3 linked regions of the Homo sapiens genome follow. The protein of the gene in region 1 purifies or fractionates together with the protein of each later gene. This does not show direct contact. Each region holds a gene or a part of one and is shown in the gene's direction. Other genes may lie near its edges.

Region 1 (3,750 bases):
AGATTGAAGGAGGAGGAGTCAGCTATGGAAAGGACAAGAGCAACAGCACCCTGTGTGAAGAGACACAATTGTCCTACCTATGAAAACACTGCTTCTTGTCAAGTAACAGAAAGGCCAGTGTGGCAGGAGGAGAGTCAGGGAGCAAGGGAAGGTGGTGTGAGCTGCGGCAGGCTGGGCTGGGCCTTCAGGCCATGGTGAGAAGTTATGATGGTATCAAATGGGCAATGAGAAAGTATTTAAGGGATTTAAGTAAGGGAGTGACCTGATCTGATTTATCTAAGAAAAACATCCCTCGGCTACTGTCTGGAAATGAACTGTAGGAAGACAAGCAAGGGACCAGTTAGGAGGCTACTGCAAGTGTCAGTAAAAGATCATGGCTAGGCCTGAAGATGGGAGACGGTGGAGAAATCTGTGACAGAATTTGAGATTTTGAAAGTAAATATAAAAGCACTTGGTGAGTTATCCCTGTTACCTTCTCAGTAGCCAGGCCCTATACTAAAGCTGCCAATGAAGTAGAATGAAGGCTCTGAAACCTCAAGAAGGGCCTTACTTTCCCAGTTTCACGGGGCTCTGCGCACAGCTCTTAGGAACTACCTTGATTCCAAAACTCTCCAAAAGTACGATCCTGCCCTTATGTTCCTCTCTCCCTTTGAGTGAATTTGGGAATGATTGTTGAAAAATGACTTTCAACAAGAGGACAGCAGTGTTCGGGGTTCCACGATACATCCCTATCTTTTAACATCGATAAGTATTTTTAAATTGGTACCTTATTTTGCGCTGCACGAGAGAGAAGGCTTTTTACTAGCAGCATCTCCTAATCCATCTAAGAAATACTGTATTTACCTTTACTCCAAGTATCCTAGGGCAAAATTCCTTTAGAACAATTCATCTTCCGAAACAGACGGGTTCCCTTTTCACCTATTCAAGTGTTGTGCATTCTAGGGTCCCCTTCCCGCCTTGCAGACAAATGCGCTCATTGTGCCACTCCAGTCCCTGGATCCTATGCAGCGGGCATTTCCTGCAAGGAGCTGCTGCATGCCTGTTTCCCTCGCCGCCTGCCCCAACCCGAATCCAAGGCTTTGGTTTCTAATGTTCCCTCCCTGTGCAGTTAAAACAATTGAGTTCAGTTACTAAATAGATGACCAGGAACTTTTTCTTGGCGAAGGCTGCGGATGTTTAGGGCACTGTCCAGTAAAGTTGTGAAAAGCAACTAAACCCTGCCGCTTGTGCAAAAGGACCAATCCACCGGGAAACAAGGGAAACGCGCACATTTCCTCAACTTGCCGCTTCTTGGGCACGTTTAGGCTCTTATTAGAGCCGCGCTTTGGAGTTGCCTCCTCCTGCTGTACAAACCCGCCGCGGCGTTCCCCCGGATGCCGCAGCGCTCACTCCCGCGTCCGCGGGGCGCGGGGAGGGGGCGAGGCGCGGGCGGCCCCGGAGCCAAGGCGAGGGCAGCGGAGCCCAGCCGGGCCTACGGGCGGCGACGCTCTGGCCCCAGCGCGCTCGATGGTTTCCGCGCGGCCGCCGGGGCTCGCACGGTCCAGTCGCCAGGGGGCGCGCTAGCCGGCGCCGCGGATCCCCGAACTGCGCGGCCCGACTCGAGTCCGCCATATTGGATGCCGCAGCCGCTGCTGCCAGCGCTTCCTCCTCTGTCTTCGCCGAGCGGGGCTGGTTCCTGCGGCCCGAGCGGCGGGGAGGTGAAACAGGAGCCCGTCGGAGGAAGGGGCAGAAGGGAGTGGAGAGTGTAGGGGAAGGGGCTAGAGGGAGGGGGACCGAAACGGAGCGGGGCAGAGAAGAGAAGGCGCCGCGGCCCAGCCCCTCCCCCGCCCGCCGCCGACCCGCCCCGGCAGCGCCTCTGTTCCCTAGAACGGCGCTCCCCCCGCCCTAGCGGCCATGCCGGTGCCGCTCTGCCGCTGAGGGAGCCCTTCCCCGCCAGCGCGTGCCCTTCCACTCCGCCCCGAGGTCGCAGCGGCCCGCTCTCCCGCCAGCGCCCCCTCCTCGCGGCCACGCAGCAGCCCGCGTCTCGCTCTCCCCACCCAGTGCAGTGGCCGCCGCCTCTTCCGCCGCCGGGCTCGGGGCCTCCGCAGCGACAACATGGAGGCCGTGAAGACCTTCAATAGCGAGGTTGGTATGGCAGCCGGGTTCCCCTGCTCCTGCCCGCACCGCCCCCACCCCTGGTCGAGGCCGGGGCCCGGAGGGTGGGCGCGGGCCTGCGGGTTTTTTAAGGGTGGGGTGAGCGGTGGCCTAGCAGTGCCCGTGGGGGAGGGGTGTTTCTCCTCTGGGTGCCCCTCCCCCGGGTCCGGGAGGAGGGTTGGGGGAGGGCCGCCCTGGGGCGGAGGGAGGTTCTGGCGTCTCCGGCGTCCTATGGAATGGCTGCGAGCTCGGAGGGAAAGACCCGGTTGGGCCCTCACCCGGAGACTCCCGACAGGTCCCTCGAGGTCAGTTCCGCCGAGGCCTGGCCCGCCCACCTCCTTCCTGGGCCTTTGAGGATTTAAGTGGACGCTGGACATGACTCTCCAGACCTTCCCGGGTCCTCACTGAGGCTAACACCGATTGGGGGCGGTGGGGGAAATGAACCTACGGGGTGTTGATCTGTGGTCACGTTACACGTAGTGTTTATAATTGAGGCATTGTTGACTAGGTAATTTGCCAGCTAGGGACTTGAGCTAATTGGATGGTTGGTAGGCAGGCAAAGGTTATTCTGCAATATCTTTTATTTTTACTCGCTCCTCTTCTAATCCATCACGACATAAAGACAAATGGTAGGGAGAGATCTGTGCATCGAGAGATGGAAGATTATGGGGGAAACATTTCTCGCTGGTTCATTCACGTGTCAAACAAGATTTTAAAAAGCAGATTCCATTTTCACTGTGTAGTTGAATTTACTAGTCTGGAAGAAGACAGGTTTTGATGTATTCAATTTCTTTTTAAACTCCGACTTCAATAGGCCTTAATGTAAACATCAAACATAGCAAGTACACATCTGCACAGTCAGCATTAGTATCCCTACCCGTACGCCTTGGAAAGTGTAATTATGGCCGGGAACAGTGGCTCAGGCCTGTAATCCCAGCACTTTGGGAGGCCGAGGCGGGCCAATCACGAGGTCAGGAGTTCAAGACCAGCCTGGCCAACGTGGTGAAACCCTGTCTCTACTAAAAATACAAAAAATTAGCTGGGCGTAGTGGCAGGCACCTGTAATCCCAGCTACTTAGGAGGCTGAGGCAGGAGAATCGCTTGAACCTGGGAAGCGGAGGTTGCAGTGAGCCGAGATCTGCGCCACTGCAATCCAGCCCAGTGACAGAGTGAGACTCTGTCTACAAAAAAAAAAAAAAGAAAAAGAAAAAGTGTAATTATGCTGGTAACTAAATTAGCATAAATTTTATGAACTCTTAAAGTGCCAATACTTTATTCGATACTATGATTGTTAAAGAGTATCTTTAATATTTACCTCTTAAAATACGAGGCTTTTTGCTGTGACGGCCCAAATAGGACAGTACTTTTAAATGCCGTTGCATAGTTTTATCTTGTTTTAATTTCTTTAAAAAGAAAAACAGTATTTGGGAATCTTAGCTAAGAGGCTAAACGGTAGATAATATTTGGGCTATTTTCAATAGCAGTGATACATAACTTTTTTTGGAAAGCATTTTCTTTTTTAATACTACATTTTTTATTTTTAACATTGATAAATTAGAGCAATAGACTTGGGAATCTTCTTTTTTTTTTTTTTTTGAGACAGAGTTTCGCTCTTGT
Region 2 (3,650 bases), on another chromosome or scaffold:
CATTAACATGGTGGTGTGTATCTATATTTAATGACATAAACATGTAACTATAATATTTTCTTTGAAAAAGTGAGCCTACAAAACAGCATGAATGGTATAATCCAATTTTTGTTTAAAAATAGATGGTGAGCATTTCTTCAGAGTATGTGTGAGTGAGCTGTGCCCAAGATTGAAAGCATGTAGTCTAAATGTTAGCCAAGATTATTTATGGGTGGTGCTACTAGATGATGTGCATTTTCTTTTATACTTTTATATGTTGTCTTAATCTTTTACAGTGGGTATGTATTACTTTCATAATTTGTGAAAGCCTTAAGGCTATTTTTATTTTGAAACTTAAGTAATAATAATAGCTAACACTTTTTGTTTTGTTTTGTTTTTTGAGATGGGGCCTTGCTCTGTCGCCCAGTTTGGAGTGCAGTGGTGCAATCTCAGCTCACTGCAACCTCGGCCTCCTGGGTTCAAGTGATTCCTCTGCCTCAGCCTCCCAAGTAGCTGGGACTACAGGCGCATGCCGCCATGACCACCTAATTTTTGTATTTTTGGTAGAGATGGGGTTTCACTGTCTTAGCCAGGATGGTCTCCATCTCCTGACCACATGATCCACCCGCCTCAGCCTTCCAAAGTGCTGGGATTACAGGCATAAGCCACCGCGCCTGGCCCAATAATAGCTAACACTTACAGTGTACTTAACGTCCTAGATACATGCATTGACTTGGTGCATTCTCGCATTGATCCTATGTGGTAGATATTATTTTCACAGATGAGGAACCTGAGGCACAGAGGGGTTAGGTGATTTGCCTAACATCACAGAGCTAGTGGAGCCAAGATTTGAACCTGGGTAGCCTGGCTCCAGCTTGTATGCTCTATACTACTTGTCAGGGTGGCGGTGATCAAAAAATTAGTTACACATGCCTGTCCTGATTTGGAGAGAGACATGTGTAGAATGCTGTAGAGTCCAGCCACTGTGTGTGATTGCTGCCTGGATTTGTGTGGTTAGTTGTCCTTTCATAACCTATCCTTTGGTTTGGAGCTGGCATAGTAATTTGTAAATCCTGGTACTGTTTGTAACAACAGATGGTTTTGTCAGAAAATGGCCCTCTTCAGATTGCTATTCATTGTTTCCTAGCAACCTATGGCTAAACTACATTTTTTTTAATTAAAAAAAAATCAGTGTTTTTGAAGTAGTGTTTTATTATTTTTGAAAAACAGAAGAAAAAAATTTACCCACCATCCTACTACCTCCACTGTTATTATTTTGCTGTTTTTCATTCCAGTCTTTTTTCATGTTTATTTCTTTCATGGTTGCAATTTTAGTAGTCAAGTAAGTATGCAGTTTTGTATATTTTTTTGAGTATTTAATTTTCCTATTAGAATAATACATGTTCAATATTTGGTAAAATCTAAAGAAAATAGACCTCATCTGCAAGCCTACTATCAGAGTTAGCCACTGTTAACATTTTAGGGTTTTTTTCGCCTAGTCATTTCCTTCTAGTAGTTGATATATAAAGACTTTTACTAAAATTATTTTACATTGTTTCGTAACTTGCATTTTGCATTTAATGCGAATGAACATTTTCTTCTGTCATTTAACATTGCAAACATGATTTTTATTTTTATTTTTTATTTTATTTTGAGTCAGGATCAGTCTTTGTTGTTGCCCAGGCTGTAGTGCAGTGGTGTGATTACGGCTTACTGCAGCCAGCCTCGACCTCCCCAGGCTCAGGTGATCGTCCCATCTGAGCCTCCTGAATACTGGGACTACAGGCGTGAGCCACCACACCAAGCTAATTTTTGTATTTTTTGTAGAGATGAAGTTTCAACATATTGCCCTGGCTGATCTCGAACTCCTGGGCTCATGCAATCTGCCCACCTTGGCCTCCCAAAGTGCTGGGATTATAGGCATAAGCCACGACGCTTGGCCTGCAAACATAATTTTTAAAATGACTGCAGAGTCATCATTGGGATGATTGACGTAATATGTTTATTTCACTTACATTTTTGGTCATAACTGTGGGGATGGTGTTCTGTCATCTTGTTTTATGCTTTCTCTTTTATATTGCGCCACACTATTTTGAAGATATATGTCTCAGATCTGTATAATATTTCTTCCATTAACCCTGCTTGTATTGCCTCCCTCGAACAAACTTCCCCGAAGTGCTGAGTATGGAGAGGGGAAGATAAGAGCATTGGTAGTCTTGGAAATGGTCCCAAAGGAAGTGAAATCAACCCCATTTCTGATTTTGCCAGTTGTTAATTGTCCCCCTTTTAACAGATATCCTGGGTAAAGCTGTTAAGCAGTGTTTAACAGATATGTTGCTTTTATATGCCCACCCCTCTAGGCTCAGGCAAAGCAACGAGCTGGCAGAGCTGGGAGAACAGGCCCAGGGAAGTGTTACAGGTTGTACACAGAACGTGCCTACCGAGATGAAATGCTGACCACCAACGTGCCGGAAATCCAGAGAACCAACTTAGCAAGCACAGTGCTGTCACTCAAGGTAGAAATCACTGTCTTGTTAAAATGGGTTGGTGGAACAGTCCAATCCTGGCCTTCATAAATGAATTTCAGTTTTATGAACCTTGTTAAATACTTTAGTAACCTCATGAAAGCAGTCCCTTTGAGTGAAATGCAAATGGCTGTGATAACAGCCTCTCACGGCAGGTCTGGGGCTAAGTTGGCATGTCTGCTGTGAACACACATTTTTTCTTACCATAACAACCAGCAGGATATTAGGTTGTAAAAGGTTCTAGTTAGGAGCATTTTCTAAAAGGAAATTAGAAAAATATAATCAATGCCAAACTGTGGACACACACACCTAACCTCAACCACTTTAGCGCTCAGATCCAATTCTGTTCTTTTAGAACGAGAGAAAACCCCCTGTTCAAAAACTTTGCAAGGGAACTGTCAGTACAGATTTCAGACTGGCTCTCAGGGGCTTGGTTTTCATTCTGAATCATTGTTCTTCCTCTCTCAGTCCCCAGTGAGGACTTCATTCTCTTTTGGCAGGAGGAGCTGTATGAGTAATTTCCCAGCTGATGGCGTTTCCCCCGACACTGATGCTACCCTGGAGCCCTGGTACTTTCTGGTGCAGAGTGCTCTGTTGTCATTTATTATTTATTCCCTGTCAAAGAGGCTAAAACAGAGCTTTGGAAAGAAAAAAGAAACCTACTCCAGTCTCTGAAGTGCCAACAGAGAGGCATCTGTGGCTTGGACTTCAGCTCCAAACTGCGACTTTGGGCAAGTTTATTTACTTTGCCCTCTGCTCTGTGTTCTGCTCTGAAAAAGGGGCTGTTAATAGTATTTGTTGGAAAGATAAGTGAGATAATGTAGGTAAAGGCACTTGGCACAGTGCTTGATGATTGCTAACATAATTCATCATAGTTATTATTCACACAATAAACATTTATTGAACACCTGCTGTGTTTATGGTCACAATCACTTTATGAGAAAGAAATAGAAAGCTTAGGTCCTACCACATCACACTTTATATACACTTGAATCGTGCATCATTCAGTCGTTTCTTTTATTCATCGAATTAGCTAATGTATTGAACACATGCTACATGCCAGGCATGTAGATTGCACTGTGGTGGTTTTGTGAACATAGTTTTTACCCAGTGTGAACTCTCTGAAAGCAGGGGCCATATCCTGGC
Region 3 (3,650 bases), on another chromosome or scaffold:
CCTGACTTCCATCTCACATACCAGTTCTGCCCACTCACGAGTCTCTGGGATAAGCCCTCGGCCCCATCCGGTCCTGTAGGGGCCCAAACCCTAGTTCCAATACCTGTCAGCAAAAAGCCATGGGTTCATAGCTGAAGCCAAGGCTCCAGTATAGAGTCTCAGGAGGCAGTTTTCCCAAATCAGCAACTGTTGTGGGGGGAACTTCTCTGACCTGCTGAGGTTTGGTGGCCCTAGAGGGTCCGTGTTTTCGGCCGTCTTTCTCATTGGCAGTGGAAGGAGCACACGCATCCTTCCCAAGCAGCCCGGTGGCACCCTAGCAACAGGGTACAGCAGGGTGATGGGAGTTTCCATGCCCAAAGACCACAAGGCTTGTAAGGGTTTGAACGTCGGCTCAGGGTCTGGAGGTTCAAGCTGATAAGTGAGAGCCCGTCTCCTCGGCTACCTGGGTTGGAGGAACATCTCAGTTCTGACTTTTTGCTTTCTTATTTCCTCTGTATTCGTTTCCCTCCAACCTGAGCATGGGAGATGAGAATGAACCTCTGGGACAGGGGTTGGCAAACTATGTCCTGAGTATTTTTCTAAATAAAATACAGTGGCACAGTCCTGCCTATTTGTTTACATGTTATCTAGGGCTGCTTTCGCACTGCAGTGGCAGAATTGAGGTGCAGCCAAGACCGTATAGCCCACCAAGCCTAAAATATTTGCTGTCTGACCCTTCACAGCAAAAGTTTGCTAAACTCTGCTCTAGGAGGTGGATGGGGACCACTATATCCTTTTATAGGCATTCTTGCCCACCCCGCAGTTGACAGGGTGACACAGTGAAATATTTGGAGGCTTTGCCAGGCTGGAATGCTACATAGGCATCCAGCATCTTCAAAGTGTCCTTGAGGAGGACATGTTGGCTACAGAGCCCCAGGCAGCCGAGTGAGGTTTTGGGTTACCTCTCCTGATCCCATCACTCCCAGCACACTCCTGGCATGCATGCAGCAGGTTTGAAACTGCCCTGTAGCCCCCAGCTGAGCAGCTCTATCTTGGTTTGTGTTTAGTGTTAACTCGTCCGTAGAGAACCACGATTTATCTCCAGTGTGACATGTGGCTGATTCTCGGGTCTATTGGCATAGAAGAATGCTAGGCTAACTTCTGGGACCACAAACTCCTAACTTCACCTCTTCTCTCCTACCCCAGTGTCTGAATAACACGTTTCTGAATAACACGTTTCTGAATAACATGCTGGGAGTTGAGACAAGACCCATCTGCCAGATCTAATTGAAACTTTTGTGTGTCTCCAAGAGAAGCTCCTCTTGGAGACAAAAGCCTTCTTTATCAGAGCCCCGGGCCCCTCTGGGGATGGGACATTGTTTTCCTTGCAGTTTAGAGCCAGTGTATTATCCAGATGGCTTTGCCTCCTGTCTGAAACAAGGTGTACATGCGTTTCAGAGGCAGTCATTACCTCCTGGCTGGTTTTTATTGCTGTCTTGTTTTGTCTAGACCAAGCCATTGCTGCGAGGAATCTGGCTGATGTATACCGGGGAGCACACACCACGGACCTGCCCTCCAGAGCGGGTGGACTAGAGGGCCTCAGAGGGGCTAATAGGCATCCACTTATTCTGAAGGGGTCTTTGTCCCTCAGCTTTGCTTCAGATTTTCTGCTGGGTTCCCCAAGCCTAAAACGGGAGCACTTTTATTTGTTGGAATGAGGAGTGACTTTCTTAGGTGCTTTCCTAAAAGGAAAGCTGACAGCTTCCCCATGGAGGAGGGAGTCATATCAAACCATTGTGCTGAATGCCTCAGGTGCATTTCAAACCCAGAACCTGGCTTGGGGAGAGAAATGGAATTTAAAAGTTGGGTGCTTCCCAGGAGTGGGTAGCTGGCACTTCTCCCCAGAGCCTCCTGGGCAGAGTACACAGGCACATCTAATGATGATGGTGGTGGTGATGGTGACCTTCCATTGGTTTGGAGCAATGTTTCTCAACCCTGGCTGCACAACAGACTCTCCTTGGGGGTTTAAAAAAAAAAAAAAAGCTTATCAGAGCCCTGCCCCAAACCAATTATTTTAGAGGTCTAATGGCGAGGCTCTGACATTAGTGTGTTTTTTACAAGCTCCTTGGAATATTCTAATGTGTAGCCAGGGTTGAGAACCACTGGCGTGCTTTTATAGCCTGTGATTACAAGTAGCTACTCATTTAATCCTCATGGCAGTGCAGTGAGTTTGATGAGTATTCCCCTTTACATCCATGGAATTGAGTCCTTGAGCCCAGGGCAAGGCACTCAGTGGCTAAGCCAGGCCTCAACCCCATGCCTCCTGACCCCGAGTGCAGTGTTGACTCCCCGCCCCTCCCATCCAGCAGCTCAGGAAAAAAATAGCTGTCTGGGACTTGGTGCTTCTACACACACTCAGCCATGCCTGCTGTTCTCACGACTCTGCCTACTCACAGCCCAGCCCCAATTGGCCATTTTTCCTCCTTGAAGATCATTTCCCACTTGGATGCTTTCCTGTTCACTGCACTCTTCCCTCCTTCATATGCACACACCTGCTGCTTTTCAGTCAGCGCCTGATAAAAAGCCCACTTTTCTTTGCCTTCAGAAATGCAACTCAGAATCTATCACCCTGGGCAGCTCTCTTCACGGGATCCCAGAATCCATTGTACTGGGTAACTTTCCTCCAGTATCCCAGAACCCATTGCTCTAGGCAGCTCTCCTCCTGAATCTCAGAATGATGCATTGCACCGGATAACTTTTCTCCAGAATGCCAGAAACCATTGTTCTGTGCAACTCTCCTCTTGAATCTCAGAATGCATTGTACTGGGTAACTTTCCTCCAGAATCCCAGAACCCATTGCTCTGTGCAGCTCTCCTCCCGAATCCCAGAATGCATTGTGCTGGGTAACTTTCCTCCAGAATCCCAGAACCCATTGCTCTAGGTGGCTCTCCTCCCGAATCCCAGAATGCATTGCAATGGGTAACTTTCCTCCAGAATCCTAGAACCAATTGCTTTAGGCAGCTCTCCTCCCAAACCCCAGAATCCATTGCACTGGGTAACTTTCCTCCAGAATCCCAGAATCCATTGTGCTGGGCAGCTCTCTTCACTGAAGCCCTTGGCCTGGGCCCCCGAGGTGGTCTGGTTGATGAGGCAGCCGTTCCAACATGCAGACTAGGGTCAGGCAGATAGCAGGGAATTGAGCAAGAAGGGGTCCCCAGCTCTGTCAGCTGTAGTGAGGTACTCTATGTGTTATTTACACAGCAGGAACCCTGATGTTGTGACAAGGCAAAGACAATGGTGGTGCCAGCTTCCATTGCTGCGAATGCTTCTATCCTAGTTGGTCTGATTGGACCAGCATAGGGAGGGTTCTACAGCATCCATGCTAATGATAGTGGGGTTCCATTCGGGGCCAGACAGACCTGTGGTACCTTCTTTGTGAGAGGGGAGGTCTATAGGGGATGACCTGACACTCTGTCTGAGGGCAGTGGGGGTGGATAACCAGCACTTAGGGCTGGATTTTGAGGAAGAAAGCAATGGAAAAGGAGCTTGTATACCACTGTGTTCAGGGGCTCTGGCCTCTTTGTCAGGCTGGACTGGGTTTGAATCCTGACCCCGCTGCTTATTAGCAATGTGGCCTTGAATAAGTTACTTAATCTCACTAAGCCTAAATT

The links.
Region 2: the proteins of SCAF8 (region 1) and DHX8 purify together in Homo sapiens (co-immunoprecipitation; one large-scale study listed by IntAct). This does not show direct contact.
Region 3: the proteins of SCAF8 (region 1) and FOSL2 purify together in Homo sapiens (co-immunoprecipitation; one large-scale study listed by IntAct). This does not show direct contact.

The regions. Positions count from the first base shown.
Region 1 is NC_000006.12:154,731,807-154,735,556, forward strand, and holds the start of SCAF8 (SR-related and CTD-associated factor 8), read left to right. Parts: upstream 1-1,609; 5' UTR 1,610-1,616; coding exon of another isoform or gene 1,617-1,744; 5' UTR 1,745-1,988; coding exon of another isoform or gene 1,989-2,094; coding exon 2,095-2,124; intron 2,125-3,750. UniProt on the Homo sapiens protein: Anti-terminator protein required to prevent early mRNA termination during transcription. Together with SCAF4, acts by suppressing the use of early, alternative poly(A) sites, thereby preventing the accumulation of non-functional truncated proteins.
Region 2 is NC_000017.11:43,514,828-43,518,477, forward strand, and holds part of DHX8 (ATP-dependent RNA helicase DHX8), read left to right. Parts: intron 1-2,339; coding exon 2,340-2,495; intron 2,496-3,004; exon of another isoform or gene 3,005-3,235; intron 3,236-3,650.
Region 3 is NC_000002.12:28,399,233-28,402,882, forward strand, and holds part of FOSL2 (fos-related antigen 2), read left to right. Parts: intron 1-3,650.